Regions from separate parts of the Homo sapiens genome. Here region 2 is linked to region 1. Evidence: fine-mapped QTL for protein levels in blood plasma. Region 1 holds a variant in brackets. A gene starts in the other region. All regions are shown on one strand. Distances are from middle to middle. Region 1 holds the start of GCSAML (germinal center associated signaling and motility like). Region 2 holds the start of SELP (selectin P).

The links. PIP is the posterior inclusion probability: the model's chance that the variant is causal. The UK Biobank Pharma Proteomics Project read protein levels with antibody pairs (Olink). The fine-mapping took linkage between variants from a reference panel, not from the people measured, so its PIPs are less certain.
Region 2: it holds the start of SELP, and the variant in region 1 is fine-mapped to the plasma level of the SELP protein (UK Biobank, PIP above 0.99).

Annotation. Positions count from the first base shown.
Region 1 is chr1:247,540,721-247,557,086 of GRCh38, forward strand. GCSAML (germinal center associated signaling and motility like) reads left to right here and starts at 8,414. Exons shown (of 5, transcript NM_145278.5): 1 at 8,414-8,500; 2 at 15,687-15,746. The coding sequence starts at 8,472. The variant T/C (reference allele first, on the strand shown) is at 8,281.
Region 2 is chr1:169,620,636-169,637,001 of GRCh38, forward strand. It overlaps SELP (selectin P), which reads right to left and starts at 9,489. Exons shown (of 17, transcript NM_003005.4): 1 at 9,437-9,489. The coding sequence starts at 9,439.

The sequences.
Region 1 (16,366 bases):
TTGCAAACGAGCAAGCTTTCTGCAACGCGTCAGAAGGATTAGAAAGGATAAGACTGCACTCCGGGTTTTGCAGTTTCTCTTTTCTTTTCAATTCACGTAGAATACAATCACTCCACTACCAAATATTTGTCATTCATGCATTTCCTAAACTGTAACCACCTGCAAGGAAAAAAACTCAAGAGCCTTTGAGAAAGTTGTAATGTCTTGCATATCCTCATTTTTATATGTTCTCTATTTCTGTTTAGAAGGCATTGAGTTACTGAGTATTAAAAATAAAAGAAACTGCTGAAAAGAATTTTTTTCAAAAATGACACAAATATTCTTTTAAGTGACAGTTACACTACTCAAGCCTTTTATTTTTTCATCCAGACATTTCTTTACCCATTTGGTCATAGTTTTGTCTAAACCTATGCTGGTTTAAATTATAAATCCTGTGACTATTTTCTTGCAAAAGCTTTTTCAATTTTTTTTTTCCTATTGAAGCTATTAAAACAACAAGGAAATGCCTCTTGCTAGTTAGAGCAATGCATTGCTTATAATTAATGTCTTTTGGCAATTTCCCAGCAACTGAGCTTCTCAGAACTCAAGTTTCCATGGTATATCCTTGAGCAAAGCAGTAGGTTTGGCCTCCCATGTCATATGGATCACAGTTGGTGGGGTAGAATATTGAGAACTAATTCAGCTATTCATTATATGTCGGTATTTTCCGCACGGTCTCATCATGGCCTATATGGAGTACTCAGTCTCATCCCCAAATGGCTGAAACTGGGGTGCAGATGGAACCAAGGTGGAGCCCAAATAAAAAATCAGGTCTCCTGCACACAGAAAATGAATGGTGTTTTCAAATCAAACTACAAGTCAAAAAACACACAGACACTCCAAATTTGAGATGTTGGCCTGAAACCCGGCTGCTTCTTGAAATAGAAAAACCCTTAGGTGAGCAGTAATAGGGATTTCTATTTTTAAGAATGGCAGAGGACTCCTAGAAAAGATGGATAGAAAAACCTGGCTGAGCACAGTGGCTCACATCTGTAATCTCAGCACTTTGGGAAGCTGAGGTGGGCGGATCACTTGAGGTCAGGAGTTTGAGACTAGCCTGCCCAACATGGTGAAAACCTGTCTCTACAAAAAACACAAAAATTAGCCAGGCATGGTGGTGCGTGCCTGTAGTCCCAGCTACTCAGGAGGCTGAGGAGGGAGAATCGCTTGAACCCAGGAGGCAGAGGTTACAGTGAGCCGAGATTGTTCCACTGCAGTCCAGCCTGGGCAACAGAGTGAGACTCTGTCTCAAAAAAAAAGAAAAAAAAAAAAGGAAAAAGAAAAGATGAATAGACAAACTAATAACTAATAAATATGCTTTTTGTGTTTTCATACCGCAACTAATTTATTTTAGAAAAAATGCAAGCCAAGCTGGGCATTGTGGTGCATACCTGTAGTCCCAGCTACTGGGGAGGCTGAGGCAGGAGGATCATTTGAGCCCAGGAGTTCTAAGCTTTAGCATGCTCTGATCATGCCTGGGAATAGCCAGTTCATCTCAGCCAGGGCTACACAGTGAGACCTTGTCTTTTAAAAAAAGGAAGAAAGAAGTAAAAAGCAAAGAAAATGAAAGAAAATGTATGCCAGTATGATATTTTCAATGCAAAGTAACTCCTTGTAGAATACTGGTGGTCCAAGGAGCAGCATATGGAAAAGGTGGAAGGAAATAATTGCACAGAAAATCCCAAAGTGGATCATTCAGTTCTTGTAGGTATATTTTGTTCTAGACTTTGCATTTTTAAATGTACTTTGAGTGTCCAAATACCTCAAATAGAAGAGCGAATTGCTCTCTAGGTTTTGGGTTTATGCAAACCTGAAATTTTCAGTATCAATAAAATCTTTAAATTTTACTTGCTACATACTTCATGAAGGGAGATGTTGCTTGACATTTTAATTTTACCTAAACTAAGCCTGAAACAGGTTATTTTTTAAACTACAGTATCTAGTCACCCCTGTGATGTGAAAGCTCCTCTTCTACAAAGAATGTCATGAATTTAGCAAACAAGGGCTTCTAATTTAATGACTATTTGACTAGAATTATTAAAATTCTACTTAGTCCAAAATAAAATTACCAAGAAGAATATGTAAAATACGTAGGAAATAAAAAATAGAATTTGCCCCAGATAATCAGTGGAGGAGTAATTGTCTACAGTTAGTTGGCAGCAAGCTGCATGAGACCTGGTAGAAGACAGAGGATCTGTGTAGAGCTGTAGACCAGAATAATATGAGGAAGCACATATTCTGCAACCAAATATCTGTCCTTAGCTTCCCTAACTGCAGGATCTAATCAACAGCGGAGTCAGCAGGGAGCACCAAGCTGGCCTTACTCAGTCTCAGGGCTAGAATCAGTGCCCTTGAAAACAAGGCTAAAGAAATGCCCATCGTTTGGATATAATATAAGTAATTGTCTCTAGTACAGTATGTCTTTCAATTGGAAGCATAAGAACAAGATGTTCAAAGTTGTTATTAAGCATGTGTCAAAGCATTAGTTATTGATATATTAGTATTTATTGTTATGGTAGCCCCCCTTATCAGTTACCCACAGTGTACTACAATAAGGTATTTTGAGAGAGACAGAACACACATTCAAATAGCTTTTATTACAGTATATTGTTATAATTGTTCTATTTTTTATTATTAATCTCTTGCTGTGCCTAATTTATGAATTAAACTTTATCATAAGTATGTATAGGAAAAACATAGTATATACAGGGTTCCGTAGTATCCACGGTTTCAGGCATCCACTGAACTGGGAGGGTCTTGGAAATTATCCCCCATGGATAAGGCGGAACACTGTATTATAGTAATTATCGTGGACAAAGCAGAAAGTCAAAAGAGCTGGTTCTAAAAGCATTTGAATAATAGGGACTTATATGGAGTTACTCCAGAAACAAATACCCAAACTAAGATTACTAAATTATATATGAATTTATTTAACTTTCTACTTAAAATAAATCAAAACTACTTGCTTCTCTACCAGCCATAAGTTATTGGTAGTAACTTATCAATTTCTGCAGGTTAACCTCTAATCTTATTAAAAAAATTTTTTTAGAGACAGAGTCTCACTCTGTCACCCAGGCTGGAGTGCAGTGGCATGATCATAGCTCACTGCAGCTTCAAACTCCTGGGCTCAAGGGATCCTCTAATATCAGTCTCTGGAGTAGCTGGGACTGACTACAAGTGTGCGTCACCCTGGTTTAACTTCTAATTTTATGTGAACAAGAGAACCTTTATAAGTTGCTAATTCTTATGTCAAACAATTAAAACAATGGGCACCAGAGCATTGAAAAACAAGCTGAGTTGATCACTGATAAAGGATAGGACCACATGTCACTAAAAGAAACACACCAAGCAGGCTGCTGAATGAAAACTTCATGTGAGGTTGTAGAGAGAGAGCTCATGATGGCTGTGCTGATGAAAGGTCGAAATTTTGCATGCTTGGAAGGACAGAATTAGGCCACAGATCTGTAGACAGCTTGTTAAACCGAATTGTATCATTCATCAGTCAGGAAAACATTTTTAGTTAGGTCCTGATTCTAAAAGAGTTGGTAAATAAGACCTCTCCAAGTTTTTCAACACTATTAGCTTTGGGTTTTATATCCTTCGAAGTTTCTGTTCATATAACAGCTTCTGCCCGGCAGCTGCACGTAGGGAAACACAACTCTCAGCTGTGATATATTCAGGCAAGTGGTGTCATAAAGAGAAACCTTCCATTTAGATTTGCAAATATATTGTGACCACAAAGGTACATTCCCCACAAGTTCCACATGAGGATCAATTAGGCTAATGAGAAAATTCTTGTCTGGGCAGGGTGGCTCACACGTATAATCCCAGCACTTTGAGAGGTGGGTGGATCGCTTGAGCCCAGGAGTTCAAGACAACATGGCAAACATGGAAACATGGACAACAGGGCAAAACGCTGTCTCTACCAAAAAAAACAAAAACAATAATTATCTGGGCATGGTGGCATGCCCTGTAGTCCCAGCTACTCGGGAGCCCAAGGCAGGAGAATCACTTGAGCCTGGGAGGTTGAAGCTGCAGTGAGCAAAGATCACACGCTGCACTCCAGCCTGGGCAACAGAGCAGGACCTGTCTTAAAACAAAAACAAAACAAAACAAAAACAAAAAAGAACTTTTTTTAGTATGAAATAATAACAACAAATAACCAAGCAATCTTCATTTTGCCTTTTACCAAATTTGAGGTAATTTTTTTCTATCATACAACAAATACAACAAGATTTAAATGTAGTCAAGCAATGACATTGAAAACATTTGAAGCCAAATATCCCATTTGGTGAAATGCTAGCTTTTTCATTGGTTAATTCTCATCTTATTGGTCATTCCTTAAAAATGAAATAATTGAGTCAGATTTGAGAGTTTGTTTCTCTACCCTGTACTTAGGTAAGGAATTGGTTTTGGTTCCAATATTATCTGCAAATGAGCAGGGACTCGCTGTCAACAGGTATGCCCTGTTTCAGTGCACGTGCTTGGTCTGGCCCCATGCCTTGCAGGACTGACTGAGACAAGATCTCCTACTCCTCTGGTGGGCAACTCCTGTTGTAGATTTAATATTACAAATATGTACAATTTTTTATATAGGCAAATTTGCCAGCTAGTATTAACAATTATAAGCACTGTCAATAATACTGTCAGGATTTATTTGTAAGAATATTAACTGTAGCATTATTGCAACAGAAAAACTGGACATAACAACAAAAAAAGAACTGGTTGAAAACTATCATTATGATGATTATGCAAAGGGGTACTTTGCACCCATTAGTAATGATGTTAAGAAAATGTATTTAATCATAGTCATCCTAACAGGTATGAGAGCCCTCATCGTGGTTTTGATTCATATTTCCCTAATAATTAGTGATGTTGAGTATCTTTTCAAAGACCTCTTGGCCATTTGTATGTCTTCTTTGGAGAGGTGTCTATTCAGTACCTTTGCCCATTTTCAAAATTGGGTTATGTTTGTTTATTTAGTTATTTTTGCTATTGAGCTGTGTGAGTTCCTTAAATTTTTTGGTAATTAACCCCTTATTAAATATACGGTTTGCAAATATTTTCTCCCACTCCATAGGTTGCCTTTTCATTCTCATTGTTACAGCATAGTATCTCTAGTTAAACATAAGGTATTGTGTACTTAACAATTCGTCAAGAGTGTAGATCTCATGTTAATTGTTCTTACTACAAAAAGAAAAAAGAAAAAATCACGAAGAGCTACAAGGAAACTGTCGGAGATGATAGATATCTTTATTACCTTGACTGTGGTGATGGTAGCATAAATGTACGCATATGTCCAAACTCATCAAATTATGTACATTAATTATATTCACGTTCTTTTATATCAATATATCAACAAAGCTAGGAAAGAAAGAAATAAATTTTTGTTTGTTCGTTTTGTTTTGTTTTGTCTAATGATGGGACGGTTTCGCTCTGTTGCTCAGGCTGATGTGCAGTAGCTATTCACGGGCATGATCATTGCACACTACAGCTTCGAACTCCTGGGCTCAAGCAATCCTCCTGCTTCAGCCTCCCAAGTGGATGGGACTACAGGCACATGCTACCACACCTGGCTGAGAAAATGGTCTTTATTTTTTATTTATTTTTATTTTTTTGAGACGAGTCTCGCTCTGTCACCCAGGCTGGAGTGCAGTGGCGCGATCTCGGCTCACTGCAAACTCCGCCTTCCGGGTTCACGCCATTCTCCTGCCTCAGCCTCCCGAGTAGCTGGGACTACAGGTGCCCGCCACCACGCCTGGCTCATTTTTTGTATTTTTTTTAGTGGAGACAGGGTTTCACTGTGTTAGCCAGGATGGTCTCAATTTCCTGACCTCATGATCCACCCGCCTCGGCCTGCCAAAGTGCTGGGATGACAGGTGTGAGCCACCGCGCCCGGCTGAAAATGGTCTTTAAAACTGTATTTTATGGCATGATAACACTTATGTGCAAAGGATGATCCTATTTTTGGAAACTTTTAAATCAATGGGTGCATGTTTGTTTTCACAAAGCAAGGATGATAAATGTGTGCACCAGAATTCACAAGGGGGCTGGATGTGGTGGCTCAAGCCTGTAATCCCAGCACTTTGGGAGGCCAAGGCAGGAGGATCGCTTCAACTCAGGAGTTTGAGACCAGCCTGGGCAACGTAACAAGACCTTTTCTCTACTAAAATTAAAAAAAAAAAAAAAAAAGATTAGCCTAGTGTGATGGCACACACCTGTGTTCCCAGCTACTTGGGGGATGAGGAGGGAGGATCGCTTGAGTCTGGGAGGTACAGGCTGCAGCTGAGCCCTGATCATGCCATTGTACTCCAGCCTGGGCAACAGAACAAGACCCTGTCTCAAAGACAAAAACAAACAAACAAAAAAGCACAAGAAGGTAGTTGAGGGTAGTAGGATTCTGGGTTATTTAAATATTTTATTTTTTCTTATTTGTACTTAATTTTCTACATGGCATTGAGAACTTAAATCAAGTTGAATATTGTGCATGTCTTTGTTCTCAAACAGCAGCCATGGCCATAATAATGGCAGGATACCTACGGCTTACTGAGACTCCCTTTCACGTAGCTCCTATCCATTCTGCAGATGGAGAACGTGAGTTCCAGGAGATTTGTTTACCAGACCAATTTATGCTAGGATGGGACAGAATGGGAGTTAGAGGTGCTGAAAAGATGGAAACCTTTCGTGTTACCACATTTCTGTCATTCGGTGACTAAAAACTAACATGGAGCTACTTACTTGAGCATTTGAGGATTAATGAGCTTATTTGTGAGTAATCAGATAAGAGAAACAAAGATTTATTTCAGTAGCTCTCAAATTTTAGTAGGGAACAGGAGGAATCCACCCCTGAGAGTTTCTGATTCAGCAGGTTTTAGGTGGATCTTGAGAGTTTGCATTTCTAATAAGTTCTCAGAGATGCCGGTGTTTCTGGTCAAGGACAGCAATGGCGGAACACGCTTCTTAGTGCCTTTACCGCTCCATGGATTGGCTGGAGTGGCATCACCTGGGAACTTGTTAGAAAGGCAAAATATTGATCCCAGTTTGAAAGAGTCAGAATCTGCATTTTAACAGGATCCTCGGGTGATTTGCTTACATGAGAAAGTTTGGGAAGCAGCACTTTGGTACATAGGTTGTCACATACGAATTAGATAAATCATAAATCTGAAATGGGGTGTGTGACATTCCTGCTTGTAATATATTTTTCTCATGTTTATAATCGATAAATAAACAATACAAAACTTATAAATAATGATAAAGCACTCCAGACTCCTGAGTTCTGCTGCTGGTTAACAGTCAATTAAACTTCCTCAGTCCTGATTTCCTCATTGGGAGAAAAAAAGAGTTGGAATAGGTGAGCATATAGTTTCTGATTTCAGCAAATAGATTTTGTGTTGGTTGGAAGCTGAAGAAAATCAACCACCTGTGGTATAAATCCTTCGGCAGGAGACATCATGAATAAGCGATTTCAGTCTCCTGACAGCCACGGCTCAGAGTCAGCTGTTAGCTGATCTCCTGCCGCTGATATTGTGGCCTCGAAATTATCACTAGAACCAGCTTGTGCTTTGTGGCTCTGGTGGGCAGCCTAGGGGAGGAAGTGGGGGACCAGATGCTGGCAACAGGTCTTCCAGGCCCTGCATTTTCCCCATTGTCATGTTAGTCTTTGAGCTGACAACCAGAACAATGGCTTCTTAACCTACCCCAAATAATTTTGATAACCTTCTATTCTCATCCTTTTTTTTCCTTTTTCTTTCCCATCTTGTCTTTGAAAGTATCAGACCTCTGAGGAAAGGCTATTGACATTTGATCTGATTATCGTTGCTAGAGCCACAAAGAGAAATTTTATTTCTAACGTTGTTTTTTTCTTTTCCCCAAGAAGAGGCTTTCTCTTTGTATGTTTGGAAGAGGACAACATATTTGGAATCTTGAGATCTCAGATCTCTGTAATGAGCAGTTTGCCTAAGAAATCATGAATCCAGATTAATCACTTTTATTCCAGCAAAAATGCAACTCTCTTATTGCATTGTGTAATCTTATTATTATGCTCACTTCGGAGGAATAGGGAAGTCCTTACCTTGTTTCGTCTTGCAATACTAGAATTTCCTTGAAAGCAAAGTGAACCTGGAGTGATAGATTCACTTTCATGTTTCAGCCTGATTTTTTCCCACTGTATGCCCACGCGTGTGTGTATGAGTGTGTGTGTGTGCGTGCAGGCACACACACGCACACTCACATTTTCCTTTC[T/C]GCCTCCCCTTTCGAGCTCTTCCTGCCTTCTCTATCATGCGCAGGCCCCTGGCAGCTCGTGGTTGGCAAGAGCACGAACCCGTGGTCAGATGCAACGTCCTGCCTCATGCATTTTCCTCTTGGTGCTTTGGTCAGAACTTCCCCAAGTGGAGTGAAACTCAGGAGCTGAGAAACCGAGTCACTGTGAAAAGATGGGAAATTATCTCCTGCGAAAACTCAGGTGAGTCTTGACTCTTGGTGCCGCCTTTCTTGGGAGAAAGAGAACAGAGATAAGGAGGCTGGACATAACGCATTTGTAATGGTGAGGTACATTGTGCTTCTAGAAGGTTAAGCCTGAAGACAGCATCCTCTAGGAGCACACAGTGACGCCCAGTTGGCTCCTTCTCTTGCCTTACTCTGGAACAATGATAGGTTGCCAGATGTAGAAAACAAAAATACTGGATGCTAAGTCACATTCAAATTCCAGAAAAACATTTTTTTTTTTAGTATGAATGTGCCTCATATAATATTTTGGGCATTATAACATGGGTTGTACTTTACTAAAAAGTTATTCATTGTTTATCTGAAATTCAAATTTAGCAGTGCATCTTGTATTTCATCTGGCAACCCTACACAATTGTCACTTGAATTTTCCTGCTTCTCTTTTTCTTCATGTGGGTGTAGAGCTTAACTTTCCATCCATCAGCTTCGTGGGTTGGTATGAGAATGAACAGTTAGGTCCTTGCAAATTATGGATGCGGGATATGCATTTGAATGCCTTTGACTTTAGTCACACCTTTTTTGGTAATGTTTAGCCTTACACTCTTCCAATACTTCATAATTTATAGAATGTGTACAGATAACAGGCATTATTGTTCTTACATCTTGCTTAATCTTAAATGATGGGCTCTACAGCATCCCACTCCTCTGTCCGCTCTCCCAGTCCCCTTCCAGACAATCTTGCATATGACGTGACTACATTGATAGACCCAAGGCAAAACTCTCATCATATCGCTCCTGTGCTCCAGTGGGTACCATGTAGAAATATGACTGGACAAAAAGGGTATGACCTAACGCTAATAGACGGAGTGGAAAATCCCAGCAAGTCTTGTTCTGTCTGTTTAGATTCTTCTTGACCTCTCTGTGCAGCGTTCCTTACTTACGGGTATGGGGCAGAGGACTCTCTGGAATGGGGGCTTATGACCTACAGTCAAACAAAGTAGGTCAGAGAAGCTGTCTTTATGAGGCAGCAGATTGGCTTCCCCACACCTGATGGTTCATACCGTCTCCTTTCACCAGGTTAAATAGTTCAGCTGTCCCTTGATGTCTTCATTTAGTCTTTCAGTAAATTGCTATTTGTTAAAGAGCTTAAGGGTGGCTGGGCACGGTGGCTCATGTCTGTAATCCCAGCACTTTGGGAGGCCGAGGCGGGTGGATCACGAGGTCAGGAGATCGAGACCATTCTGGCTAACACGGTGAAACTCCGTCTCTACTAAAAATACAAACAATTAGCCGGGCGTGGTGGTGGGCACCTGTAATCCCAGCTACTCGGCAGGCTGGGGCAGGAGAATGGCGTGAACCCGGGAGGCGGAGCTTGCAGTGAGCCGAGATCCCGCCACTGCACTCCAGCCTGGGCGACAGAGCAAGACTCTGTCTCAAATAAACAAACAAACAAAAAAAAATGCTTAAGGGTTCATGGATGGAGAAGGGCCATCAAAGTTCAGGATGAGCATGAGTCTGGGCAGTAGATGGAGGACAAATGACACAATTGTGCTGAGAGGTAAATTCAATTATTTACCCTAAAGAAAAAATGTTTCCCTTCTTTTAAAGTTAAGCAATATTTATGGAAAGCCTAGGTAAGACAATGGTCTTGGTCGCAAGAAAAAATTAAACATGGAAGGAAAATGGATATGGAAGCAAATTTTAAAAATGGATAGGCCCCTTCAGAGAACATCGTACTTAATCACTCTGACTCAGCTTTAAAAAAATAGACATTACGTGGCTCAGATAATTAAAATTGAGAGAGAATTAAAACTTGTCAAGGTTGCCTTTGCTATAAAATTATGAATCTTACATGTAATTTATGATGTCAAGTCATCCGTCATTTCCATTACACCACAATGGCTTCTTTTTAAGATAAGGCAGGTGCTAATGTGTTCTAGGCAGAAGCACAAACAGCGCACTGTAGAAATAAAAGGAAGGAAGGAAGGGAATTCTGGTTTGGGATAGCAGGAAGGAAGGACATGCTTGAGGAATTGCCATTTGGATTGTGCTGTAAATGTTAGGCAGACTTACAAAGCAGGAAAAGATGGTCCAAGCTGAAGGGACAACCTGTGAAAATGTATGAGTTTCAAGTGTATGGTATTACTGTCAATAATTGGAGCATATTGTTCAGAGATGACTCCAGTAGCAGAAGAAGTTGAGAATGAAGCTGGGGGTCTGATAATGAAGGGCCTTCAAAGGCACGTAGAAAGTGGTAAGCAGTGAACATTTATAAGCTGGAGAAAAATGCAATGTGGCATGTATTTTAGGAAGAAATGTCTATGCTCAGTGAGTATGGAGGAATGACACAGAGAGAAATAGACAATAAGCTCTTAAAATATACCAAAGAAGATGCAGGGGCAAAAGGAAAACTTCCCCTTTGCTCCCTGAAGGTTCTCTGAAATCAGCTGAGAAAAGGCAGATTAATAGGACAAAAGGCAAATTTATTGATCATCGTTTTATGTGACACAGGAACCTCAGAATGAAGACCCAAAGATGCAAAGGAAACTGTCCATTTCTATGCTTAGGTTCAACAAATTTTGGATAGCCATGTGGAAATATGATTGGACAAAAAGGATATGACCTAATGCTAATAGACAGAGTGGAAAATCCCAGCAAGTCTTGTTCTGTCTGTTTAGATTCTTCTCGACCTCTCTGTACAGCATTCCTTACTTATGAGTATGGGGCAGAACACTCTCTGGAATGGGGGCTTATGACCTACAGTCAGACAAAGTAGGTCAGATAATGTCTTTATGGCTGGTTCTTACACAGAAAGATACAGGGAAAGTTAGAGTCATCTTACTAATTTTATGGCTGGCTTTGGGGAAAAGAGGTTCTGGTTTCTATCAATCACCTTGGGGAAGAGGGATTCTAATTTCTATGGCTAGCCCTGGGTAGGAAAGAGTTGTCACAGAGAGGAGGGCAGGAGAAAGAGAGCTGCTTCTGAGGCTTTTATTTTGGAGTATCATTTTCTGAGCCCCAACAAAGAGATGGTAAAGAGCTGAAATTCATCAGGAACAACCAAAATGAAGAGGAAATTCAGTGAAAGTAAATGCATTCCCAAGGAGTCACCTTGGTGTGTGTCAGTCATTGGGATCACAGATGTGGTGTGAGAGAAGGCTGGAGAATGGCCTCTAGAACACGGATGCAGAGAGCCTCCTGTTGCTCTGACCCTGCTTGTCAGAGGCCTGTTACCTTGGGCAGTGCCTAATTTGCAGCCTGATAATTGGCTGCAGATGAGTCTGGGGAAGGTAGCTGCTGCTTTCTAGCCCCTGACTAGCAAGAGGGTGAAGTAAATGTAGACATCGCCCATGGGCAGTGTCCATCACATACCCTCTTTAGTCTTTATTTCAAAATTGATTTAGTTCTTTGAAGACTTTATCCTCCCATATAAATTTGTACACAAATTCTGAATTTGTGTATTATATAAAAAGTGCCAGCTTGAATTTGGATTCAGACAACATTGTGAATATAGAGATCTATTTGCAAATTCTTCTATGTTTATGCAGATGTACTATATGTATATATATTTTGAGATGGAGTCTTGCTCTGTCACCCAGGCTGGAGGGCAGTGGCATGATCTCGGCTCACTGCAACCTCCACCTTCCAGGTTCAAGCGATTCTTCTGCCTCAGCCTACCGAGTAGCTGGGACTACAGGCACGCACCACCATGCCCGTCTAAGTTTTGTATTTTTAGTGGAGACGGGGTTTCACCATATTGGCCAGGCTGGTCTTGAACTCCTGACCTTGTGATCTACCTGCCTCGGCCTCCTAAAGTGCTGGGATTACAGGCGTGAGCCACTGCGCCTGGTCTATGCAGATATACTATTAATACACCAATCAAAACAATTATTTATAATTATCTTTATTCAAATCTTCTTTAATGCATTCTGATAGAGCTTTAATTTTTTGTTTTTATTTTATTCTTTGTTAGATAGATTTCTAGATACCATATGCAACAGTAATAAATCTATGAATGACATTTTTTCCTAGCCTGTTATTGTTGGAATGCTATTGAATTTTGCAAGATGACTTTGTATCCACTAGCCTTGTTGAATTTCTCATTTTTTTTCATGGTTTTTTAATCCTACTGGGTTTACATAGTTAATATATCATCTATAAAGTTAAAGATTTTTCTATTCTTTTTTTGTTCCTTACAAGTCTTATAGGTACCTTTATCATGTTTTATAGCATAGTTATGTCAGAATTCTTAGGCATCATTTTCTTGTAACTGATCATAATAATTTTTTTCTAAATTGTTTTCATCAAGGTTGCTGTATATTTTTGACATTTATATTTGGCATTTATGTTTTTGGCATATTGCCTCTATCAAAATAAGGAGATTCTACTTTTTAAAAAAATATGTAGAGATGAGATTTCACTATGTTGCCCGGTCTGGAGTGCAGTGGCTATTCACAGATGCAATCAGAGTGCACTACAGCTTTGAACTCCTGGCCTCAAGTGATCTTCCTGCCTCAGCCTCCCAAGGAGCTGGGATTACAGGCCTGCACCACTGCACCCAGCTCTTCTGAGGGTTTTTATTGTTAATAAGGACCAAACATTATCAAATGCAGTTTTAAACTATTGAGATAACCTCATGATTCTTCTCTTAGGCTTCTAAAGTAGTTAATTATGTTAATAAATATTTTTGCTAATTACCTATCTTTTAATTTCTGGGATAAAACCCATTTGATTGTGATGTGTGCAATTTTACTATAGTTTTAGATTTAGTTAACTTATATTTTATTGAGGATTATTGCATCTATTTTCATGATCGAGTTGGACCTGTGATTTTTAAAAATTTGATTTATTTAATTTGAAATGAAAGTTTACCAATCTCATTAAATGGGTTGGCATCATTTTACATTTCTCTACTTTCTGGAACATCTTATATATGAGAGAGTATATTTGTCACTTGAAGTTTGGTAAATTGTGTACGCAGCTGTGTAAGCTGGATTTTTTTGTTATTGATGTTATTCATGTGTCAGTTTTTATATTTCATTTTTTCCAAGATATTATTCATTTTAAGCCATAATGTTTATTATACATAATTCTTCATCATGCCTGTTTTATGTCTGTAATACTTATTTTGAACTTTCTGTTTTCATTATATTTTTGTCTCCATTCCTTATTTCTTTAGTTGGTCTTTCCAGACTTTTGCTATCTTACTGATATTATTCTTTTCTAAGATTTGGTTCCCTATCATATTTATTTTTACCCACAACTTTCTTGTTTCCTTTTTCTTCTCCCAACTTCTTAAGATAAATGCTTACTTTGTCATTATTAGTCATTTATGTTTTCTTATGAATGTATTTTAGCAAGCTATTTTCTTCACACTTCACTTTATCCTTCAAATAGTCTTGTGTAGCTTGCATTATTATTTTATTCTGTGTTTTTAGAAAGTTCCTTTATGATTCCCTCTTTAACATAAGGATTATTTAGAATATTACTTGTGCCTAGACAGGTACACTTTTGGTTATAGCTTATTGGGTTTTAATTTTACTGCTTGATAGTTGGAGAAATCATGTGCAAATTGTTGATTTTGGGGGATGTTTACTAAGACTTTCTTTGTAGAGTTATGAAGTCATAAGTCAACATCCAACATTTAGAAAGTTTAAAAATAAGAAGAAAAAACACAGAAGGTATAAAAAATTATTCATAATCTTAATTCTTTGGCCAAGATACATCTAAAGCTTAATAAAATACCTATTTTTGAAAACAATAGAGTATTAGTTGATTTATTAATTTGGTCAACAAATTTTTGTACATCACCTATGGCCTGATATTATCTGAATTCCTCTGGATTAAGAAAAACACTTTTTACTTTATTCACAGTAGAATTTAGTATCCAGTTATATTCAGTAATATTAATGGTGTGGAATTCCAATTAGGTCCCTACTGATGTTAAATACTTTTCCTGTCTTGTTTTCAACTTTAAAATACAAACATCCTTTAGATGTGTAAGTCAATGAATCACTAATAACCCCAAGGACAATTATTTTACCAAATTCTTTCTTTATTGACCAGTTTAGGAAGATGGAATCGTGAGAAAACTAGACTCCAGGAAAAGGGGAAAAAAGGAGACAGTTAAATTACTTTTTACCTGATTTACAATCTACACTATTAAATAAACATTACATCCAGATTTGACTGTGATCGTGACTATTATACAAAATCTCTACATCAGCAACTGATTCTATAAAAAGCCCCCACCTCTGTAAATTGATATTCCTTTATATTTAACAAATATATTCTTTGCTTAGTGGCTTTGTGTGTTGATATCTAGCAATGTTTCTTGAACATATACATATGACCTCTATTCAGGGAAGGCACTTTCTCAGCGTTGGTTCGAAATGCTTTCCCCGAATACTGCTGGTAAGCAGAAGTGAGGCTCTTATATGCAAAGCTACCTAGAAGCAGAAGGATAGACCAGTGCTGCAGAAGTGACAATAGAGGAAAAGAAAACCATCAAGGAAATGCTATGTGTGGACAACTGGTGGAGTAGAAAGTTTGATTAACCAAGTCACAAACATAAGCTGCTAACTATTGTGTTAACCACGCAAATCACCTGATTTCTCTAACTTCGTCATTTAGTGTTTGCCTGATTATCATAAAGATGATGATAATTGATGGCAAAACACCAAGAGTAATATGAAAAAGTCAGCTTTCCTGAATGTATGTAAAGATCCCAATGTCTTATCTGCACATGGATGCCCACATGCAGCAGGGCCCAGAGACGCTTGCTCTGGTTCAGTGGGCCAAGACTGGCAGTCCTCATAGTCCACAAAGGTGTGTACAAGCAGATCATCTTGCCTCAGGTTGTTGCAAAAGTGATGCTTCCCTGTTGTTAAGGTCTTTATAGCTTCCTGGGAGCTCTCACCTCTTCTAGAGATGCAGGAAGTTTGCATGTTGGGTCACAAGAAATCCTAAGACTGACAGAATCAAAAGTCAGACTATGGGCATTCTGTCCCATCAGAGTCCTGGTCTCTGTGGTTAATTTCTGAAATGCATTCTATCTGTGACTGCTTATTGATTTTGAAGGAAAGGGAAGTTTGTCAAAAAGAAAAGTCAGGTTTGGTTTTAATGGTCTAGAAAGTTAGAGAAGAAGGTGAAAAAATGTGGAGGGCAGTAACAATCTCTCTTTTTTCTTATGTGTTTCCATATAGTTGCCTGGGAGAGAATCAAAAGAAGCCCAAGAAAGGAAACCCAGATGAGGAAAGAAAACGGTAAGAACAGAGCATCTCAGAGTTTTTTTGTTTTGTTTTGTTTTGTTTTTTCATTGAGATTACTTCCAGAGTCTCTGCCCCACTAGAACTAACACCCCTTAGGGCCGCTATAATAGAGTTCTTTGGTGATTACCTGCATGACTTGGCAGCAGGTTAGACATTGACTCTGTCTAAATAAGAAAGACAGGGTATTAGCCACGTGTTTTGTTTCTATTGATTATATAATGTGAGTGTAGAAACATAAAGATAGAATAAAGGATGTTTGGTTTTGGTTGGTTATATGTGGTGGCCATATTTCCCACCTTTTCCTTACAAGTAGCCAGAATAATCTTTGGAAAACATGTCTCATTATGCCTTTTCCTTGCCCGAGACCATTCAGTCATTCTTCATTGCATTCAGAATAAAATGCAAACTCTTCACCAGGGCCTACAGTTCCATAAGGATTGGATTCTGCATCTCTCCCATCTGGTTCCTCACTCTCTACCTTCACCCACTATCTTACATGCATTCTCCTTTTATTTGATGTTCTTTAAGCCACCAAACTCAGCCTCACTTTAGGGCATTTCTACAAGCTGGTCTTTTACTGCACAATTAAAAAAAAATTCCATATTTGCATTTGG
Region 2 (16,366 bases), 78 Mb before region 1:
TTTGGTCTGTGACAATTTGCTGCGAGGTTATGTGTGTGTTCGTGTGTCATGCCCCAGTGATGGATGATGTAGCGTGCATGGGACGGTGTGCGGTTGTGTGTATGTTCGTGTGTCATGCCCCAGTGATGGATGATGTAGGGTGCATGGGACGGTGTGGGGTTGTGTGTGTGTGTGTGTGTGTGTGTGTGTGTGTATGTGTCATGCCACAGTGATGGATGATGTAGGCTGCATGGGACTGTGTGGAGTTGTGTATGTATGCGTGTGTCATGCCCCAGTGATGGATGATGTAGGGTGCATGGGACAGTGTGGGGTTCTGTGTGTGTGTGTGTGTGTGTGTGTGTGTGTCATGCCACAGTGATGGATAATGTAGGGTGGATGGGACAGTGTGGGGTTCTGTGTGTATGTGTGTGTCATGCCACAGTGACGGATGATGTAGGGTGCATGGGATGGTGTGGAGTTGTGTGTGTGTGTGTGTGTGTGTGTGTCACACCCCAGTGATGAGATGTAGGGTGCATGGGACTGTGTGGGGTTGTGTGTGTGTTCGTGTGTCATGCCCCAGTGATGGATGATGTAGGGTGCATGGGATGGTGTGGAGTTGTGTGTGTGTGTGTTTGTGTCACACCCCAGTGATGGATGATGTAGGGTGCATGGGACTGTGTGGTGTTGTGTGTGTGTTCATGTATCATGTCCTGGTGATGGATGATGTAGGGTGCATGGGACAGTGTGGGATTGTGTGTATGTGTGTGTCACACCCAGTGATGGATGATGTAGGGTGCATGGGACAGTGTGAGGTTGTGTGTGTGTGTGTGTGTGTGTGTGTGTGTGTGTCACGCCCAGTGATGGATTATGTAGGGTGCATGGGACAGTGTGGGGTTGTGTATGTGTCACGCCCAGTAGGGTGCATGGGACAGTGTGGGGTCATGTGTGTGCATGTGTTCATGCACTTTTGACTACAGCCTGACCAGATACCAGGGAGAACTCAACTCAAACCAGTTAATGTGTCCCAGAGAGTAGAGTTATCTCATAAGCCTAGAACTTTTCATCTGGGAGCTTCTGAATCTTGACTTTGGTAAGTAGGCATATTTTGTGTTCTTATAAGCTGCTGATCTCTGCAGGACCTATGATTAAACACTGAGAGTATCATAACGTTATGATTTACAGCTGTTTATTTGCACAAAATGCAGAGTGATCGATAACCCTTTGGTGCGAACCTAACCCCACTGCTTTCTCTGAATTGTGTTGTGTCACAAGCTGTTCTTCCTATCACATTTCAAAATGCACCATTCCAAATGCTGAAGTGGAATTCTTCAAACCAGGATAAGGCTGACTTCCCAAGGGGTTCACAAGCAAAGAGAGTGTTAATTAAATCTGTATTCAGATTCTCAACTTTCACATATATACTTTCTTAAAAACAATCTGCCTAAAATACACCTTTCTCCCACTTTATAAGAGAAAAATTATACCTTTTACTAATTTCTTATTTATTCCAGAGCTTTGCCTTTGGATATAAATACATTCGTATGCCAGAGATGATTCGAAATATTGGTATAGGTATTAAGAATTTGAATATTGTAAATGATATTGCAGCAAATCCGTTTTCAAGTCTAGTGATTTCCATTTATTTCCTTTCATCAGCTTTGAGGGAGCACCCGATTAAGTTGTCAAGTCTGACTAAATTTTGATAGTAAATCACTATATAATTTGGGGCATATAACTTGGAAGGACTTCAAGGAATTGAGACATTGCTATAATAAAACTTCTAATTCCATTTACTTATTCATATGAATGAAGTTTCTCAATGTTTAAATCCTTGAAAATGAAATATGGGAATAATATTGATGCCAAACTTGTCTAATTTTGTTGATAAGTAATATTCATTCATGGATATATGAACAAATGAGGGAAAGCTCCTCCTGTCTTAGAGATGAATCTTTAATAGCAATTTAAATATAAAGGTTTAAGTTACTTGTCAAAACTTGCAGTATATTTACTTTATTTAATTGTGTACTGAAAGTAGTTGTCATGCTAACTCAATAGAAAAGAAAAACATTTTAACACATAGAGACTTACAGTTGTAGAAAATTGAAATTTTATATTTTTATTTTGCAAAGAAGTATAATAATCAAGAAAATACTTTAAGCTTAAAATGTGTAATCTTAGGCTAAATACTGTAGAAGTGGGATAGAAATAACTATTCAAGGAGAGAAAAATGAATAATATAAAATTTCTTAAGAGCCTGCTTGTGGTCTTTTAAGTGATGAGGATTGCAGATCATGCTAGTACTTTATTCCATTGGATAAACTTTAAGAAATTATGTAACAATTTTATTTTTACAGTCTAATTTTTGTAATACACTGGAAAATCCAATCTTCTTTTGCTTTTAAAATTTGGGATAAAAAATTGTAGCTTTCCACTTAGAAAGGTGTAAGAGGTAACATAGTGTTCCAGGATATTTTTGGAGGTATAGGAGCAAAAATATTGCTGCTGAAGAGCACAACTCTGCAGCCTTCATGAAGGGGACCTGAGTGCTTGCCTTTGAACCTGGGCTTTGCTCTATTCAGACAGATTGCAGAAGGAGTGCAACGATTTTAAATTTAGTGGTACTCTTCCTGTGGAAGTGGTTTTCTCCCTGAACAGAGTATTTCTAGGGATTTCCCTGGCTTTGGGGCCAGCTCACAAGAGTGTGTAGGGCGAAGGAGTCGGTGAGGCTCCCAGTCTCCCATCACAGTGGCCAACCCTACCCACTGTTTCCTGCTTTGACTTGTTTGTTTAAACTTTTAAATAAGATTTGGTTTAAACAAAATTTCCAAAAAGAGATGTTTCCCATTTTAACCTGTTTGTTTGTTTGTTTGAACTTTTTTTAAGCAAAATTTCATCAGCAAATTCTCTACCACACAAGATAAAACAAAGTGAGAGAGAGCGAGACAACTTGTTTTAAACATTTGAAGGTTTTAGAGGACTGGTACAGTGCTTTTGATGAAGGCACAACATCTAAGAAAGGAAAATGCAAGTCAGTGTGCATCCCCTGCTTTAATCTGACATACTTTTCTGTTTCTATGCATCACCAAATACCAAGATTCACCTCTTACAGGTTATTTCAGAGCTATAGGAGAACATAAAGGTCACTTCCAAGCCAACTTAGCATTTATCTGCTGTTCTGCAGGAAGTCTTTCAGACTTCGAATGCCTAAGATGGGGCAGCCACCACTCCCCACCACTGAGACTCAGTGAGCGTAAATGATTTGCCCAAGCTTGCTCACATGAATGTGCATAGGGTTAACACAGTTATTCTTATTCTTCCAGGGCTTATGAATTTTGAAAATCTGATAAAAGCCGTGGTCAGATTTCTTCAAAACAAATGCATGCTTGCAGTAGTTTAGAGAATCTCAGATGGTTCATGACCTACTAAGTCTGTCCATGTTTAATGTGGCCCAAGTTCAAGATTCTGTGTTAACTGTAAGGCAACTGATAGGGATTTTGTGTGGAGGTATGGAGAATGGATGATGTTTAAAAATCTTCTTTGAGTAACAGTTTTCCTCTGAAACCTGCTTGGGGTGGGCAGGCCTTCTCATACCTGCTCCTACTCTGCATTATAGTCTGCAGGATGCTGCTCTGTCCTGTGTTACTAAGCAAGTTAAATACTAAAACAAGAGGAAATTCCTCTCTAGAAGCATCCACATGCTCTGCTAGTCTTTAATGTTCTCTGGAAGGCTGGTTCAACTGGAAGTTGCTGGAAAGGAGTCAGAGACTGGGTCATTAGAATAACATCCTGTGCCTGTGTAAGCCTTCATTAAGTACCATGATTATCTTTAATTTTACTTTAATAAAGAACTGGGCTGGTGCAGTGGCTCATGCCTCTAATCCCAGCACTTTGGGAGGCCAAGGTGGGCAGATCACTTGAGGTCAGGAGTTCGAGAACAGCCTGGCAACATGGTAAAACCTCGTCTCTACTAAAAATGCAAAAATTAGCCAGGCATAGTGGCACATGTCTGTAGTCCCAGCTACTTGGGAGGCTGAGGCAGGAGAATCGCTTGAACCCAGAAGGCAGAGGTGGCAGTGAGCCGAGACACTCCAGCCTTGGCAACAGAGTGAGACTCTTTCTCAAAAAACAAAACAAACAAACAAGCAAAAAAACTAATAATGATTGCAGGGTGAAGAGAAAAGCAGAGAGAAAGTGGAAGAAGCAAATGCCTTGACCTAACTTTTCACACAAGGAGGTACCAGAGGCTAGTAGGTGTCCCATGGCTTGCCACGTTCCAGGTGGCTTACAAAGTTGGCAAGAATAGTGCCACAGAAAGGAGATCTTGTTCTTTTTGTCTACATTGTAGACCACAGCTTTGTGCTTTTAGAAAGGCGGAATCAAACAATGTCCCTCCCTTGACCCTTTGTCCTCCTGCCCACATCTGCCTGTTTCTCTCCTTCCTCTTATAGCTAAACTTTCTTAACTTCCTTGCCTCCCCCTTACTCTCCAGCCCACTGCCCGACCATCCTATCAAAGTGTCCCTGCAAACTTCATTGCTGACATCCTCATTACCAAACCAAATGAAGACTTTCCACCCTTATCTTCCTTGACCTTTCTGTAGCAGTAAATACCACTACTTCCTTTTGCCTAAAATGCTTCCCTTAGCTCTTCTGTTGTTCTTCTGCTCTAATGTTTGAGAAACTTTTCTGAGTCTTCTTCTGAATCTACCTCAATCCTCTGCCTTCCCTTGCAGAGGTAAGTGTTTCTCTAGGTTCCCACCTCCATGGCCCTATTCTCTTCTCATTCTTCTGCTTTCCTGGGAAGTAAAGATGACCTCCTTATGGTCATCTGTTTCCAATGTCCTCTAATCAGCATCTCCGTTTCTGAATATTCTCTTGAGCAGGAGGTCCACAATTTAAATGCGCAACAAACATGTGAGCATACAGCTGAGGAAGCTACTGACAGAGGCTTCTCAAGGGCAAGGACTATTACTTACTCAGGTCTGAATCCCCAGCCATGGTAGGGCACATACTCAATACTCAATAAACATTTTATGGATAAATATATGAATGAATAATGGCAGAGGAATAACTGAAAGTAAGACAAAAATATGCTAAATAAGAAAATGTTGGAAAAATACATAATAATTATAACTGAATGCATTACTTTTACAGTAGTGATAATAGCTAAGTGAACAAATAAAATGGTGAAAACAGACATAATTCCAGTCCTCATAGAATGCACATTCTATTGGTAGAGAAGACAATGAAACAAATACTAATAACTACACAACAGTACTAAACAAGTAAACATGAAAAATATTAACAGAATATAGCCATAAGTGCTAGGTAGGAAATGAAACTTATGTGATAGAATGACTGTGTCACTATGTTGGTCAGGAACGTCAGGGAAGACCTCTTTAATGAGATAATGTTTAAGTGGAGAGAAGAATGACTGCAAGAAACCAGCCAGTGAGAAGCAGGAAGAAGAGCATTAAAGGAAGAAGAAAAAGCTATTTCAAAGGCCTTAAGGTGGAAGCAAACTGCAGTGTGTTCAAAGAACATGAAGACATTAGTGTGGCCAGAATGGAATGAGCAATGGAGAGAAAAATACGAGCCGGGGGTAGTGACAGATCACATCGGGCTTTGGGATCCAAAACAAGGGGATGAGATTTTATTCTAAGTGCAATGATAAGCCAACGGAAGCTGGGCACGGTGGCTCACATCTGTAATCCCAACACTTTATGAGGCCAAGGCAGGCAGATCCCTTGAGGTCAGAAGTTCAAGACCAGCCTTGCCAACATGGCGAAACCAACTCCACTAAAAAATACAAAAATTAGCTGGGCATGGTGGCGCATGCCTGTAATCCCAGCTACTCAGAAGGCTGAGACAGGAGAATCGCTTGAACCCAGGAGACAGAGGTTGCAGTGAGCTGAGATGGCACTACTGCACTCCAGCCTGCTGAAGATTGGGAGATCCTAGAGGTTAACTGAAAAGGTAGTTTGAGACCATATCTTGTGGGTCACAAATACCAGTTGGCAGAAGGGATACTTCTGAACAGAGAAGTATCATGAACACATGCACTTAATGGTGGTATGATTTTTTTTGTGGGGCTGGGGGACAGGGTCTTGCTCTGTTGCCCAGGCTGAAGTGCAGTGGCATGATCTGGGTTCACTGAAACCTCCACCTCCTGGCCTCAAGTGATCTTCCCATCTCAGCCTCCTGAGTAACTGGGACTACAGGCATGCATCACCACACCCGGCTAATTTTTTGTAGAGATAAGTTCTCACTATATTGCCCAGGCTGGCCTGGAGCCCCTGGGCTCAAGCAATACTTTTTCTTTGGCCTCCAAAAATGCTGATATTATAGGGGTGAGAGTAGTGCGATACTTTTTTTTTTTTAAATGAGTTACAATCAGGGAGATTGCACTGCAAAAGAAGAGGCTATTGCAATGGTCCCAGTGAGAGTTAAAGAGGGACAGGTTTGGTCTGGCATCAGTGGGAATGCAAATAGGGGAGGTGAATATGAGAGTTGTTGAGGATGCAGAACTATACAACTTGTTGGTAGCAAAGCCCAGATGTTACAAGCTATTACAGCTAATACATTAGTTCCCTTATGTTTCTGGACGGTGGTGGTGTTAGTGGTGTGGCACAGATATTGGTAGCCCAGCTTAGGGGTGGAAAAAGAAATACAGTGAGAAAAGAGGTTGTCTCTAAGCCAAAGAGCAAATTATGAATATAGACAAGAAGGGACCCAGGACATCAACACTTAGAATCCAAGCATATATTTAATTTAGACTACCAATTGCCATTATTTTGAGTAAAATATTAGCATTAAAAATAAAGTACGACACTTAAAATTTTTTAAAAAGTCTATTGGATCAGAGATGAGTTATATCTCTACAAATAGTGAGGATTTGCTCTGTATTTGACTTCATGAAGTTTCTGATTTACTTTTTAATCAAAAAGATTAGACACCTTGAAGACAATATAATGAATGTCATTTATAAAACCACTGTGTGCCTACTCTCTAGGTTTAGGTCCAGGGTTTTTTCTAAACACAGTTTTTTATGTAGTAAGTCATTTTGATTTTTGAGGATTTGATCAATAAGCTTCTACTTAAAGATCTCTGAAGATGCACATTCTAAGAGCTGGTGGCTAGCCCAGGAGAGTCTGAACTATTTTAGTTGCATTTTGAAAAACAGGTAATGAAAAGAAGAGTAAGGACTGGAAGCCACATAAGGTGGTTAAAAGGTATAAATGGACGAAAATCCAGACCTGCTCCTTAGCCCACTAAAACTTTTTTTTTGTTTTGTTTTTGAGACAAGTCTTGCTCTGTCACCCAGGCTGGAGTTCAGTGGTGTGATCTCAACTCACTGCCACCTCCACCTCCTGGGTTCAAGAGTTTGTCCTGCCTCAGCCTCCTGAGTAGCTGGGATTACAGGCACATGCCAACATGCCCAGCCAGTTTTTGTAAGTTTAGTAAATATGGTGTTTCACCATGTTGGCCAGGCTGCTCTTGAACTCTCGACTTCAAGTGATCTATGCGCCTCGGCCTCCCAAAGTGCTGGGATTACAGGCATGAGCCACTGAGCCCGGCCATAGCCCGCTAAAACTTTGACAAACATCAGTGCAATTTAACTATAAGTTCCCAATCAAGAGCTACTCCTCTGAGATCTATCTGATTGAAAATACCCCACCAGAAAAACCTTATCCTCATTTTCTCAGGTCCTAAAAGTTAATTAAAGCCACTCTCTGAACTTGAAGCAAAATTTACACAGGCAGTTTGAGGTTTCTGAATCTTTGGGGCCAAATGTGCTCAGAGGAAAAGGAAGAGGTCTTGTCTTTGAAATATTAAAAACCATTCCAGGGCTGGGGCCTTAGCACTTCGCTGTAGAGCTCAAGCCTAATTTCAGGGTACCAAGAGAGGGGCTTCTGAACATAAAGCCCAGGAGGCAATCGAGAAGGGTTCTTACCCTGGGATCCACATGGAGGTCTGGGAACCTCCTGTGGTTGTCTCTAAAGGTTGGTGTTTATGTCGATGTTTTTGCTTTCATCTGGGAAAGACAAGTTGTAACTTTCATCAAAATCTCAAAGAACTCTCTGATCCAATAAGTTCATACCTTTGAAATAGAGGAGGATGCCAAGGAGAGTAGAAGGAAGAGAGGAATAACTGCTCATTTAAGTTAACCAATTCAGAAGTATGACATGCAAAAAGACAGGACAAAAGTAATTCATATCCTTAGGTCATTGTGGTTCAAACTTAAGACAGGCTCAAACTCCTTCCTCTTCTCTTTATCATACTCTTATTCCTGTTTTCCCCAACACAGAAACCCACATTATAAGTACTTGAAAAGTGTGCTATAGTAAAGCAAAGCAGTAGGATGAATCAGGTGTATGCGGTACTTTTTTCTGGAGTCCCACAGAAAGGTGCTCAAAAACAGAGACCTGCCTGGTTCCTCCATAGCCACAGACTGCAGGATTTCGGACCCTGGGACTATGTGGGATACTCTTGGAAAGTCTGAGGAAAATTGGAAGTAGCTTAACCATGTGCATTTTATCTAGGTGCATATAACATTGCTGAGTTCAAAATGCCTAGCTATCCTTGGATCTTCCCTGAATTAGAAGTAGCCTAACCACGTGCATCTTATCCATGAGCATATAACATTGCTGAGTTCAAAATGCCTAGCTATCCTTGGATCTTCCCTGAATCCTAAACCCCACTATTCCTAAGAATTTTCTTTTTATTGTAACAATAATGGCTAACATTTACTAATCACTTACTATGTGTCAGGCTCAGATCTGGATGCTTTTCAGCAAAATCTTATTTAATCCTCATGATGAAACTATAGAGTATTATTACTATATCCATTTTATAGAAGAAGAAACTGAGTCATTAACAAGATTGAGTCTTAGGGCAGAAAAGGAAACTATGTGGATATTCCAGATCAGTCCCAGAAGATTCATAGGCTCACAGAAAGAAATGGGAGGGATGGGGATGAGAAACTATTCAATTGTAAGCTTGTCCCAGGGCACCTACCCAGTCTTCCATTTATTCCATCATTTATCCCAGAGAGAAGTACAGTCTTGGAAAATGGGGTGACAGGTTTACCATGATCTATTCTCAGAGAGCCCCTATAAATTCTAGTAGGAGGAACAGCAGCTGCGGAGCCAGAGGACAGGCCCCAGATCCCAACATCATGTAGCCTAACAGTGAAGCTTAGATAAAACACAGCCTCTGTAAACCACGATGGCTTTATTTGTAAAATAGAAATAGCAACCTCAACTCACAAGGGTGTTGGGAGGGTCAAAGTGGACAGCAAGTTTAAAAGTACTCACAAAATCTAATAGGCAATTCAACATAAAACTCCATGGCTATCGCTGTTCCTCACTTTCTGAACCTTTACCTGCCTGACTTTACTCCATACCACTCCAACTCACTTCAACCACTTCCCATGCAGAAAAAAATAAACTCACCATCTCCTCTGTGACTCTGCTGGTTTTCTGCCTTCTGCCCAACCCAGACTGCTTACAGTCTCACTGCCTCCCCTCAGTGTCAGGCTGTTTAGAAAAACAACTTCCTATTCACATTCCAGAAACTCACCACAGCCCTTCCCATGAAGTTAGAATGTTGATAATGCAAGAGTAATGTTGGCAGCTTAGAAATAGTGGTTGCCAAGAGGCAAGGGGTCACCCCCTTCCATGGAAGATGGTCTGGAGGCAGGCGCAAGGTGAATTACTCCTGGATATCCCAGGCTGAGCAATGTGGGAACAGTACACACACAAAGGTTTCCTTGGATTATGATATAAGCTCCAATTTAAAGTAGTACATTTGGAAAACATGCTTTGAATTAATTACAATGTGATTTTCCAGTGCCCATTTTCCAGTAATTATGACATGTCAGTGAATGTTTACTATTCCGGCAGCCTTCTGAGGGAAAGAAGCAAAATTAGTAGCACAAAAAAAAATAGAGAGAAATGGAAAAAGCCACTAACAGTTTTCTGGCGCTTGGGAAATTTTATTGGTAAGTTTCAAAATGACGTATTAAATAGACATAGGTCATGTGAAAGGAATTCTGCTTCTTATATCAGAAATAAAAAGGTATACAAATAGATACCTTTTTATTTTCCTCTTCCCATGGGATGTGTAGGACCAAAAAGCTGTTGGCATAGTGGTTAAGACTTCAGCTGTGCTGTTAAACTGCCCGAGACCCATCCTGGCTCCTCTTCTGGCTATCTACTGGGCAAACTACTTAAGCTCTCTATGCCTCTGTTTCCTCAACTGTAAAACAGAATAACAGAACTTGCCTCACCGGGTTGTTGTAGGATGAAATGAGTTAATATGTACAGAGTGATTGAAATGACACTTGGCCCACAATTGATGCTCAACAAATGTTAGTGATTATTATTACTTTTCAGATTGATCTCAGACAGCAAAATCAAGTATCAAGTATTTAGTTTCAAGTCAGAAAGCCATAACTCCTATTTATACTCTTGGAATTCTATTGTACAGTAGTAGGTATTATTCTTCATTCACTTCATGATGGTTACAGCTTGTAAATAGGCATCTCATGGATAAATTTAAAATGGAATGAAGTAGAAACATTGGAAGAAAGTCTAAAGGTAAAGATGAATTAGGGTATATAAGGCTGCATTTGCACGTTGGAATTTGGGACCAAGAAGAAAAAATTAATTATATAGTAGAAGTAGAAAAGATGGTGAAGGAAATGCTGTTGAAGGAATGACTGTAGGGGAATAAGGGAAACTTAGAGAGAGGAAAAAATGAGGAACTTCTTGGCAGCATGATGCAGTTCAGAGTCCAGACCCTAGAGTCAGACTGCCTGGCTCCACCACCTACCAGCTGTGTTGGGCGTTACTAATCTCCCTATAACTCAGTTTCCTCAGTGATGTGGTTTGGCTGTGTCCCCACCCAAATCTCATCTGGAATTGTAGCTCCCATAATTCCCACAGGTTGTGGGAGGCACCTGGTAGATCATTGAATCATGGGGGTGGTTTCCCCCATACTGTTCTCATGGTAGTGAATAAGTCGCATGAGAGCTGATGGTTTTATAAGGGGAAACCCCTTTTGTTTGGTTCTCATTTCTCTCTCTTCCCTGCTGCCATGTAAGACGTGTCTTTTGCTTTCTACCATGATTGTGAGGACTCCCCATCCACGTGGAACTGTGAGTCCATTAAACCTTTTTTTTTTTAATAAGTTATCCAGTCTCGGGTATGTCTCTATCAGCATCATGAGAACAGAATAATACACTCAGCAATGTGAATAATAAGGATAATAATCACCAAATACATAGACATGTAAGGACCATTAAATGAATTTAATGTGTTTGGAACAATACCTATCACGCTGTTAAGTGTAAGTTTAAGTGTTGGCTATTATTCTATAAGACTTGCCTCCATGTCTTTCTGTTCTTACTTTCACTCACCAGCCCCTCTTTTTGGCATTGCCTCATGTTAGAAAAAATATATATAGTCTCAGATGGGGATGAGGAAGTGTGGTATGTAGACTAGTAGGTTCTTTTTTTGAGACAGGGTCTCACTCTGCGGCCCAGGCTGGAGTGCAGTGGCATGATTACTGCTTGCTCCAGCCTTGACCTCCTGGGCTCAAGCAATTCTCCCACCTCAGCCTCCTGAGTAGCTGGGACTATAGATGTGTGCCATCACTACTGGCTAATTAAAAAAAAAAATCTCTAGAGATAGGGTCTCTCTATATTTCCCAGGCTGGTCTTGAATTCCTGGGCTCAAGTGATCCTTTCACCTCAGCCTCCCAAAATGTTGGGATTACAGGCATGAGCCACCATGCCCAGCCTGGTAGTTTCTTATTTATAATAAGTTTGATATTAATAAGTTCAATTGATCATATGTTTTTAAGTTTGATATTGTTAAATTTTAGTGAATATAAGGAAAGCATAAAAAGATTCCTATGCAGGTGACATTAGCAAGATGGTGGAGTAGGAGATGTCAGCCTTATGCCCCAACAAAAAAACAAACATAGACAGTTATACACAAACCAAAATAGCCCTCACAAGGGTGGGGAGTTGGGGGATGGGGCTCAAGAGCCTGTTAAAGAATTTGGAACAACACAATGGAGAAAAGAAAGAATATCCATGTAGAAGAATCACCGGTGAGACTGGCATATATGAGACACCAGGAGATAGCTACGAATAAAGAAATTTGTAGGCTATCTGTGTCAGTCATGTGACACAGAGCCACTGAGGCCCCCAGTGTCCTGCTCCACAGAGGACACTGGCATCTTTTATCCAACAGCCATTCCCATAGCAGGATGCTAAAAAGGGAAACACAGTTGCACTACCCCTCACACCCCCTCACCAAGAAGCAGCTATTGTTGCACTGCCCCAGGACTGGGGCCAGGGTTACCACCTCTCACAAGTCTATGTGTGTTCCTGATCCCCAAAAGTTGTGGCTGCTCTACAGATATTCACACTCTGGACTGTGGCTCTGTGGCTGCAGTGCACCTCCTCATGTCTCAGACACTGGAGTCACTGCTGTTGTGAACTAGATCTCACCCTGGGACCCCAAGCCAAGTTCTCTCTGTGAAAGTCTTTGCTCCAGACACTAGTTCAGCCACTGTAGAAAGGTAACCCATATTCTCAACTCCAGAGCTGCTGTAGTAATGTGCACACCTGCGCTCCAGACCCTGTCTCTGAGGCTGTACTACACACACCCACACCTCCAACACCAGAGCCACCACTATAGTGAGCTAGTGAACACCCTGGGTCCTAGAGTCAAGGTTTCTCTGTGCCTGTCCATGCTCTAGTCACCAGCTCAGCCACCAAGGAGAGCTAGCCCACACCCTGGATCCTGGAGCCACTGTAGCTCTGCGTATGCATGCAGTAAAGTCCCTGGCTCCTTAGCTGCTTTATAAGTACCTGCATTTTACACACCATTATCAATGTGATAGTAAGTATGCCTGTGCCTTGGGCACTGGTACCATTGCTACAATTGAATCTGGTGCTGTGGTCCCTCCATGCATGCCCATGCTTCAGGCCTTGGCTCTTGGCCACTCCATGGGCACTGTTCATCAGACACCAGTGTCACCACCACCAGGAGCAGGCCTGCAAGTTAGACCTAATTCCAAGAGGGATGTCCTCAGTCATGACTTCCCAGGTGGGGAAAAAAAGAGATATGGAGGACTTGTCACAATTGAAAACCTCAACAGCCTCATTGCCACTGTAGATACCCACAGTGTTGGCCTCTAAGGATCCCTGTAGTATTCACTAACACCAACCTCAGCTGACAGATCTGCATGGAGACCACACAGCTTTGCCCCTACTGAAGTCAGAACTTTTGCATCCCACCCAGCCAGCATCCTCGCATTATTCCACATAAGAAGGTATTTCTCCACCAAAGTCAGCCCATACAGCCTGAAATTGGGGCAGATCCACCAGATGCTCAGACAGCAGTGTAAGGCAGCAAGAAACATGAAAACCCAAATTAAAATATCACCACCTAAGAAACACAATAATTTCCCAGTAGCTGACCCAAAAGAAATGGAGTACTACAAATGGCCTGACAATGGATTCAAGATAATTGTTTTTAAAGAAGCTCAGTTACTTTGAAGCAAACACAGAGAAACAATTTGGTGAAATCAGAGAAACAATAAATGCACAACATAAGAAATGTAACAGAAAGATTGAAATCATAAAAGAAATTGGAGCTGAAAAATATAATGAATGAAGTGAGAAATGCAGTAGAAATCACCAGTAGCAGACTTGATCAAGCAGAAGAAAGAATCTGTGAACTGAAGACAGGTTTTTGAAAATATACAGTGAGAGGAGAAAAAAGAATGAAAAGAAATGATGAAAGCCTACAAGATTTATGGGACAGCATCAAGAGAGCTAACATTCAGCCAGACTCAGTGGCTCATGCCATAATCCCAGCGCTTTGGGAGGCCAAGGTGAGTGGATCACCTGAGGTCAGGAGTCAAGACCAGCCTGACCAACATGGTGAAACCCAGTCTCTACTAAAAATACAAAAAAATTAGCCAGGGATTGTGGCACATGCCTGTAATCCCAGCTACTGGGGAGACTGAGGCAGCAGAATCTCTTCAACCTAGAAGGCAAAGGTTGCAGTGAGCTGAGATCATGCCACTGCACTCCAGCCTGGGTGACAGAGTGAGACTGCATCTCAAAAAATAAAAACAAAAATTAAATTAAAAATTAAAAAAGAGAGCTAATGTTCACATTACAGTAGTTTAAGAAGGAGAAAATAGAGGAAAAGGGGGTCAGAAAGCATATTTAAAGATTGCTAGCTGAAAATTTCCCAAATCTGAAATAAAATATTAATATTCAGGTACAGGAAGCTTAAAAATCTCCAGTCAGGTTCAATCCAAAAAAGACTACACCAAGACATAATAATCAAACTATCAAAAATCAAAGACAAAGACAGGATCCTAAAATCAGCAAGAGAAAAGAAGCATATCACAGACAAGAATTGCAATAAGGCTATCACAAGATTTCTCAGCAGAATGCTTCTAGGCCCAGAGAGAGTGAGATGATATATTCAAAGTGTTGAAAGAGAAAAAACTGCCAACCAAGAGTCCCATCCTTCAGAAATAAAGAAGAGATAAAGACTTTCCCAAACAAATAAAAGCTGAGGTAGTTCATCAACACGAGACCTGCCTTACAAGAAATGTTAAAGGGAATTCTTCAAGCTGAAAGAAAGGGATGTTAATTAATTACATGAAAATCTACGAAAGTATAAAAGTCACAGGTAAAAATAAAAATACAGTCAAATTCAGAATTTTCCAATATTATAATTGTGCTGTATAAATCACTTATATCTTTAGAATGAAGGTTAAAAGACAAAACTATTAAAAATAATTATAACCACAATAAGTTAACAGATACACAATATAAAAGATGTAAATTATAACATCAAAAGCATAAAGTCTGAAAAATATTAAAAACCTATAAAATGTGGAGGGAGAGTAAAAGTGTGGAGTTTTTTTATCCTTGAAGTTAAATTTTATCAGCTTAAAATAGCCTGTTATAACTATTATATGTTTTATCTAAGTCTCACAGTAACTACAAAGCAACAACATCACATTAAAAGGATTATTCACCATGATCATGTGTAATTTACCCCTGGGATGCAAGGATGGTTCAACATAAGAAAATCTATAAATGTGATACACACATTAGCAGAATGAAGGACAAAAGCCATATAATCATCTCAATATATGCAGAAAAAGCATTTGACAAATTTTACCATAATTTTATGATAACAATTGGTAAAGAAGGAATAGTGCCCTCAGGCAATAGGAAGGAATAATACCCTCAGGTGTGGAAAGAAAGTAACTTCAACAAAATAAAGGCCATATACATAAGCCCACAGCTAACATTATAGTCAATAGTGAAAGGTTGAAAGCTTTTCCTGTAAGATCAGGAGCAAGGCAAGGATATTCACTTTTGCCACTTCTATGCAGCACAGTACTGGAAATCCAAGCCAGAGTAATTGGGCAAGAGAAAGAAATAAAAGACATCCAAATCACAAGAACTTGTCTATGATTTCAGACAACATGATCTTATATATAGAAAACCCTAAAACATGATCTTATATGTAGAAAACCCTAAAGACTTCATAAAAAAAAACTTTTAGAACTAATAAATGAATTTAGTATAGTTACAGGATACAAAATCAACATGCAAAAATCAGCAGTGTTTCTCATACACTAACAACAAACTATCTGAAAAAGAAATTAAGAAAATAATCTCATTATACCAGCTACAAAAAAACACACTTAGGAATAAATTTAACCAAAAAGATAAAAGATCTATATACTGAAAACCATGAAACAAATTGAAGAAGACAAAGGAATTGAAAGATATCCCATATTTATGAATTTGAAAAATTAATATTGTTAAAATGTCTATACTACCCAAAGCAGTCTGCAGATTCAATGTAATTCCTATCAAAATTTCAATGGCATTTTTCAGAGAAATAAAAAATAACAATCTTGAAATTCATATAGAACCACAAAAAAATCCTGAATAGCCAAAGCAATCTTAAGCAAAAAGAACAAAGCTAGAAGCAGCACACTGCCTGATTTCAAAATATACTACAAAGCTATAGTAATTCAAACAGCATACTGGCATAAAAATAGATACTTAGACCAATGAAACATAGTAGAAAGATAAGGAATAGATTCATGCATTTACAGTCAATTGATTTTTGATAAAGATGCCAAGAACATTCAATGGTGAAAGGAGGGTCTCTTTAATAAATGATATTGGGAAAACTGGATATCTATATAAAGAAGCTTGAAATTGGATTCTTGTCTCACATACATAAATCAAAGGAAAATGGATTAAAGACTTAAATATAAGTCCTGAAACTATAAAACGATTAGAAGAAAACACACATAAA